2 linked regions of the Homo sapiens genome follow. The protein of the gene in region 2 purifies or fractionates together with the protein of the main gene of each other region. This does not show direct contact. Each region holds a gene or a part of one and is shown on either strand. Other genes may lie near its edges. The genes, in order: ABHD12 and UGT1A9.

Evidence for each region.
Region 1: the proteins of UGT1A9 (region 2) and ABHD12 purify together in Homo sapiens (affinity purification with mass spectrometry; one large-scale study listed by BioGRID and IntAct). This does not show direct contact.

Annotation. Positions count from the first base shown.
Region 1 is NC_000020.11:25,303,701-25,307,524, forward strand, and holds part of ABHD12 (lysophosphatidylserine lipase ABHD12), read right to left. Parts: intron 3,216-3,824; coding exon 3,133-3,215; intron 1-3,132.
Region 2 is NC_000002.12:233,674,597-233,678,420, forward strand, and holds part of UGT1A9 (UDP-glucuronosyltransferase 1A9 precursor), read left to right. Parts: intron 1-3,824.

The sequences.
Region 1 (3,824 bases), on a different chromosome or scaffold from region 2:
GGGATCTGGGTTCAGGGTGTGTTTTGGGAAACAGCCTGATTTCTGCTGGATTTCTTTTTACTAGACAACTGAAAGTTAACTCTTCATTATCTCTATGAACATCTATTACAGCTAGATGACAGGTGTCAATCACAGCTATATAACTGGCCCTCGGAATGTCTTCTGAAAATTGAAAATGATTATTTTTCCACCAGATATATATATTTTTAAGCGGAATAATTCAGGTGGGCCAAGAAACTTAGTGTAAATGAATGTTACTAGGAATCTGTTGGTAAAAAAAGTCAATGTTCTCTAATTTATCTGTGTAAGTGACATTTATGGTCACTCCAACTCTAAACACTTAGAAGTGATTTAGGATTTTCAGTAGGTTTGATAGATCCAAATCCTTCAGCAAACCACATAACAGAAGCATGGGCTGCCAGGACCGGCGGAGCCTGGGCTCTCCTGTGCGGCCCTCACTGAGGTGGTGCCTGACCCAAGTCTCCTTTATCCCCAACAGGGCTGTGTGCTCCGTGAGGGCAGCGCTGGTGCACTCCTGGCACCTGGAGCAGGACCCGGTGGGGAGCCCCCGCCCTGTCTGTGCTGCTGGCAGGAGGCACACACTCTTGCTTCCCAGTAAGGCTTGTCTGATGTGCGAGTCCCTCTCACCAGAGGCTCTGGAGGAAGCGGCAGTACTTGGGATTTCCCAGACCACGGCCCACCTGAGCTCAGGAAAGCCCCTCCTGCCCTCAGAGCTGTGCCCCTGACTTCCAATGAGCTGAGGGTGGGGGTCTCACCCAGGGTCACCTGTACTCCATCTGGCTCAGCTGGGAGGGTCAAGGCCAAAGGCAGCTTCAGGGGCACGGTACTCAAACTTGCTTTTTTTGTTTGTTTTTATTTTTTATTTTGAGATGAGTCTTGCTCTTTCACCAGGCTGGAGTGCAGTGGTGCGATCTCAGCTCACTGCAACCTCTGCCTCCTGGGTTCAAGTGATTCTCCTGCTTCAGCCTCCCGAGTAGCTGGGACTACAGGCGTGCACCACCACGCCTGGCTAATTGTTTTGTATTTTAGTAGAGACAGGGTTTCACCATATTGGCCAGGATGGTCTCAAACTCCTGACCTCGTGATCTGCCTGCCTCAGCCTCCCAAAATGTTGGGATTACAGTGGTGAGCCACCACACCCAGTCACAACCTTGCTTTTTAAGAAGGAATCCAGTTCATTCAGATAATTCTTTTTTTCTTTTCTTTGTTGCCCAGGCTGGAGTGCAATGGCATGATCTTGGCTCACTGCAACCTCCGCCTCCTGCCTCAGCCTCCCGAGTAGCTGGGATTACAGGCATGTGCCACCACACCTGGCTAATTTTGCATTTTCAGTTGAGACGGGGTTCACCATGTTAGGGTGATCTTGAACTCCTGACCTCAGGTAATCCACCTGCCTCAGCCTCTCAAAGTGCTGGGATTACAGGCGTGAGCCACTGCACCCAGCCCAGATAATTCTTTTTCAAGTTCCAAAACAGTAGTATTTACAAACAAGCAGGGTTTGTTGCTTAAAATATTTGTTCAACTTTTAATTTGTTCTATTTTTATTTTTAGAACCAAAACATACTTGATGGGAAAAAATACTCCATTTTTTTTCATATTCTGTTTCAAATTAAATTAAATATTTATAGGGTGTTTTACTTTCCCTCTTTTTTTTTTTTTGAGACGGAGTCTCGCTCTGTCGCCCAGGCTGGAGTGCAGTGGCGCGATCTCGGCCCACTACAACCTCTGCCTCCCGGGTTCAAGCGATTCTCCTGCCTCAGCCTCCTGATTAGCTGGGACTACAGGCACGAGCCACCACACCCGGCTAATTTTTGTATTTTTAGTAGAGACAGGGTTTCACTGTGTTAGCCAGGATGGTCTCGATCTCCTGACCATGTGATCTGCCCACCTCAACTTCCCAAAGTGCTGGGATTACAGGCATGAGCCACCACGCCCAGCCTACTTCCCTCTTTTTTTAAAGAAATCAAAATTCATGATATAAAAATGTCACAAAGACAATATCAATACAATCTGAAAAAGGTTTAAAAAAAGAACCCTTAACTAGAATACTTAACTTTTGGTTTACCTAATAGATTTTTAACAATAAACTTTGTAATATATTTCTATAACCAAACACAAATCAAATGGCTGAGGCAAAGTCATTTTCTGATTAAGTCAGTATCAGCAGGGCTCAGTGGCTCACGCCTGTAATCCCAGCACTTTGGGAGGCCAAGGCGAGCAGATCACCCGAGATCAGGAGTTCGAGACCAGCCCGGCCAACATGGTGAAACCCCGTCTCTACAAAAATACAAAAAAATTAGTGGGGCATGATGGCGGGTACCTGTAATCCCAGGTACTCGGGAGGCTGAGGTGGGATAATCACTTGAATCCAGGAGGCAGAGGTTGCAGTGAGCTGAGATCACGCCACTGCACTACAACCTGGGTGACAGAGCAAGACTCCGTCTCAAAAAAACAAAAACAAAAAAAAAAAAAAGAAGAAAAATCAACCAGTTAATATCACTGTTTTAATATGTGTTTTGGTTTTCACAAACCATTTTGAAATAAAACAACTCTATGGACAAAAACTATGTTATTTTAATATTGCTTTACTTCTATAATCTTTTCAGATTTCTTATTTCTTTCTGTTACAGTTCTTTACTTGCCCCCTGGCCCACAATTTTTTTTGTTTTGTTTTGAGACAAGGTCTCACTCTGTCACCCAGGCTGGAGTGCAGTGGTGCAATCACGGTTCACTGCAGTCTTGACCTCCCCAGGCTCAGGTGATCCTCCTAACTCAGCCTCCCATGTAGCTGGGACCACAGGTACACGATGCCACCATACCTGGTCAATTTTTGGATTTTTTGTAGAGACAGGGCCCTGCTATGTTGCCCAGGCTGGTCTCAAACTCCTAGGATCAAGCGATCTGCCTTCCTCAGCTTCCCAAAGTGCTGGGATTACAGGTGTGAACCACGGTCCCTAGCAGGCTTTCCCTTTTTAAAGACCTGTTTGCTAGAGAATGACCCTAAATACACTGAATTCCATCCTATTTGATTACTGTGACTAAAGAGGCTCATCCAGAGGTTCTCAGAGTTTTTCTAAATAGGAAAATTAGTTCCTGTCCCATAATACTCACTTTTCATCATTTGCAAATTTAATTCCACTACTTGTAATAGGATCAAGGAAGAACCAGTCAAACCCAGGGAAGTATCGATATATCTGGAGACAAGATGGAAACCATTTTCAGAAGCGTTGGTTAAGATATCCAGGCACAGGTCAAGGGTGCAGACAGTTTAAGTTCAGAAATCTATAAGGCGTTGCCCATAACTACCCTACCTAAGGGAGCAGGGGTGACATTGCCAAGGGGCCACCAGAGCTGTGCCCTGGCACCTTCTGCCCTGGCCGTGTCCTGGCTTTGCTGCTAGGAACAGAAGAATCACCCGCCAGGCCCCACAGACTGGCATGGCAGGGGCTGCCCTGCAAATGGGGCTCCCGCACCTCCCAGCCAGGCCAGAATCCACCCCAGAAACCAGTCTTCCCGCAGACACCAGGGCCGCCACCCCTGAGAAAGTGGGGTCTATGGACAGTTTCCTCACACAATTTAAGAAAAGCAGCACCAAAAAGTAAGATAAGATAAAAGGCTCTTCTGGTTGGTAACAGAACAGCATGAGGCCAGCATGGGCTGACACAGGCCCGAGAATCCATGGCCAGTGGGGAGCACAGGGATCACAAACCAGAGTGAGAAGGAGGGGAAAATAACTGGCTAGGTTTTAAGGGAAGGTCCAAGGTTCCATTCCCAGCTGGGGAGGGCACAGGTTGGGTGGGGCC
Region 2 (3,824 bases):
AATATGAAACATCAAACTATATATGGTTTCATTTATTTTGATTATAAATATCTTTTATGAGATATGAAATAAATGTGTTTATGTGTCTATTAAAGAATATGGATGTATGAAAGTTTTTATACTTGTGGAAGATTACATATATTAATGTATGTATTTATGACTATACGTGTAAAGCCAGCGGAGTTCTCACAGAGGAATTCAGAACTCAAAGAAGGCTTTCCGGCAAAGAGCCTTGGATATGGCCCAACCACAGAAGTAAATTGTCATTGACAGAAGGATGGACACTTCATATTGCTCCTTCCTTGTTTCAGATGCCAGGATGTGTCTGGGAAAAGCATGCAGTTGGTTACATCTTGCTGGGAAACAGGATTCAGAGTCTGTGTCTTATCTGTCTGATGAGAAGGAAGCATTACTTGATGATGGAGTATGTGTTTGCACATGTATGTGTTTGTGTATGTGCAGGTGTGTTTGTGTGCAGTGTCCCAGACCCTGCATAGGGGATTTTCTTGAAGGTCTCCTGTAACAAAATCTCCTTGAGGCTATCCAGGGGAATTACATCCAGGGATGTAATTAAATACTTTAACAAGGATGGCAGATGGCCCCGTCTTCAATGTCAGGGATCAAATTTCAACGTGAGATTTGGAGGGGACAAACTTCTAAACTATATCATTCCGTGTGGTCATTCTTTTACATTCCAGCGTTCTAATGTGTGTGTGTTGATTAATGATGTGTAAATAATTCAGCAGAACATTGAAATAGTTTTAATGGCAAAAAGAGGAGGTCCCTAGTCTTTTTGAATTTTTGATGAGTTCCAACAGAATTAATGACTGGTTTTAGGTGAAAAGAATTCAGGCTTTGTCTATACCATCCATGGCAGGTGCGGCTCTGGGGGTGGGATATGGTTACAGATAAATAAGAGATCTGTGCTTCCCCCCTTGCTGTAAGATTCTGGCTATAGTCCAAGATCCAAATTCAAAGTTAGCTTTTGGTGGACAAGACTAAGGCCTCCCACTAAAATTATTTACTTCAAGTTTTTATTTTCAAAGTTTTCAAACATACACAATGGAGAGACTCAGTGTAATGAGCACCCACTTATCCATTCTTAGGTTAAATAATTTTCACTATTTTGCTCTACTAATTCATCTATCCCTTTATTCTATCTTTTTAAAGAAAACTTTTAAAAATAAATTTGTATGTTTTTAAAAAGAAATTCTTGGCATGTCATTCCATCACTGAACAATTCATTTAATATAAAAAATAAGAAAAATTTGTTACATAGCCACAATATCATTATCATATCTAAGACAATAAAAATTCTTTAATATTATCTCATTTACAGTCCATAATAAAATTTCCCCGGATTGTCTCACACAACATCTTTCCATACAGATCAATGGAATAGAATGGAGAATTCAGAAATAAACCCATACATATACATCCTTGGCCAATTGACTAGGTGCCAAAGTTTGACAAGTGTGTCAAGATCATTCAAATGGGAAAGAATAGTCTTTTCAACAGAAGACCCACCCTGGGGTCCTTGAGCTCCAGCGTCAGACTCCAAAACCATTTGTGGAAATCATCCAGCCACCTCCCACCATGCCTCTGATGAATCCTTCACCGATGGATTCATCAGAAGCATGGTTGATGATGAATTCACTGATGAATCACCCCTGTGTGCATCCACAGGGGTCCTGCAAATATTTTCTCACAGTCTGTTGAGTGACTTTTCTTACAAATACTTCATTGTAGAATAAATATAGGATTATAGCAAGGTTACAACAAATAGTTTAGAGAATTTTCATCTACCCTGTGTCCAGTTTCCACCATTGTTAAATCTCATGTTTCTATGGCACATCCATCACAACTCATTCACCAATATTGACGCATAATGATGAGCTAAAAGCTAAAGTCTGTTTCCTTCAGATTTCATTAATTTTTACTTAATTTCCCTGTTCTTTTATGGGATCCCAGTGATACCACCTGAAATGTAGTCATCATGTCTCCTTTGTCTCCTCCAGCCTGTGACGGTTTCTCAGACTCTCCTTGTTTTTAGTGACTTGGGCAGTTTCGAGCAGTCCTAGTCAGGTGTCCTGTAGAATGTTCCTCTAGAATGTCAGTGTGTGTTTTGCCTGATGTTTTCATCGTGGTAAAACTGGGTTTATAGACTTTTGGTAGGAAGACACAGAGGTCTTTTCTTGTTTTCTTGCGTGTGAATATTCAACTGTAGAAAAACAGAACCTTTTCTCCACTGCATTGCCTTTGTACCTTTGTAAAAACTTGGTTGTTCATACATCTGTGCACGTATTTCTAGACTTTGTATTCTGTTCTGTTGATCTATTTGTGAAATATTTGATTACTATAGCTGTGTAATAATCTATAAATGAGGTAGTGTTACCTCTAATTTTTTTTTTCAAATTGCTTTTGCTATTGGAGGTCTTTTGCATTACCATATGCATTTTAAAATAAGTTCATTAATGTGTGCAAAAATCCTGCTAGGATTTTGATTGGGATTGTATTTTATTTATAGATCAACTGGGGAGAAACAACATCTTAGCAATTTTGAGTTTTCCAATTCATTAACATATCTTTTTATTTAGGTCCGTCATCAGTGCTCTGTAGTTTTCAATGTACAGTCTTTCACATCCTTTGTCAGATATATCCCTAAGTATATCATGTTTTTGATGCTATTTAAGTGGTATTTTTAATCCAGTTTTCAAGTGTTCATTGCTAGTATAGTTGACCCCTGAACAATGTGGGAATGAAGGGGACCAACCCGTGTGTAGTAGAAAATCCGCATAGAACTTTTGATTCTCCAAAAACTTAACTACTAATAGCCAACTGTTTACCAAAAGCCTTGCCAATACCATAAACAGTCAATTAACACATAGTTTGTATGTTATTAGTATTATATCCTGTATTATGACAATGCAGCTAGCTAGAGAAAAGAAAATGTTATTAAAAAACGTAACATATGAAAAAATGCTCAACATCACTAGTTACCAGAAAAATGAAGATGAAAACCACAATAAGATATCATCTCACACCAGTTAGAATGGCTGTTATTAAAAAGTCAAGAAATAATAGATGCTGGTGAGGCTGCTGAGAAAAGGGAACACTTGTACCCTCTTGGTGGGAATGCAAATTAGTTCATCCCCTGTGGGAAGTAGTTTGGAGATTTTGCAAAGAACTTAAAACAGAACTGTCATTCGACCCAGCAATCCCATTACTAGATATATGTAAAAAAAATCGTTTTACCAAGAAACACATGCACTGGTATGTTCATTGCAGCTCTATTCAGAATAGAAAAGACATGAAATCAACCTAGGTGCCCGTCAACAGTGGCTTAGATGAAGAAAATGTGGAACACATACTCCATGGAATATGCAGCCATAAAAAAAGAATGAAATCATGTCCTTTGTAACAACATGGATGCAGCTGGAGGTCATTACCCTAAGGGAATATATACAGGCACAGAACACCAAATACCATTGTTTTCACTTAGAAATGGGAGCTAAATAGTGGGTACTTTTGGGCATAAAGATGGCAACAATAGACACTATGGACTCCTAAAAGGGAGAGGAAAGGCTGCAAGAGTTGAAAAACTATTGGGTACTATGCTCAGTACTTGGGTGATGGGAGCAATCATGCCCCAAACATCAGCATCACACAATATACTCAGGTAACCTGCACATGTACTCCTGAATCTAAAATAAAAGTTGAGTATGTATAAGAGGAAGTCATTCATCATAAAGGTCTCCATCCTCATCATCTTCCATTGAGTGGGCTGTGGAGGAGGAGGAGTAGATGTTGATTTTGCTGTCTCA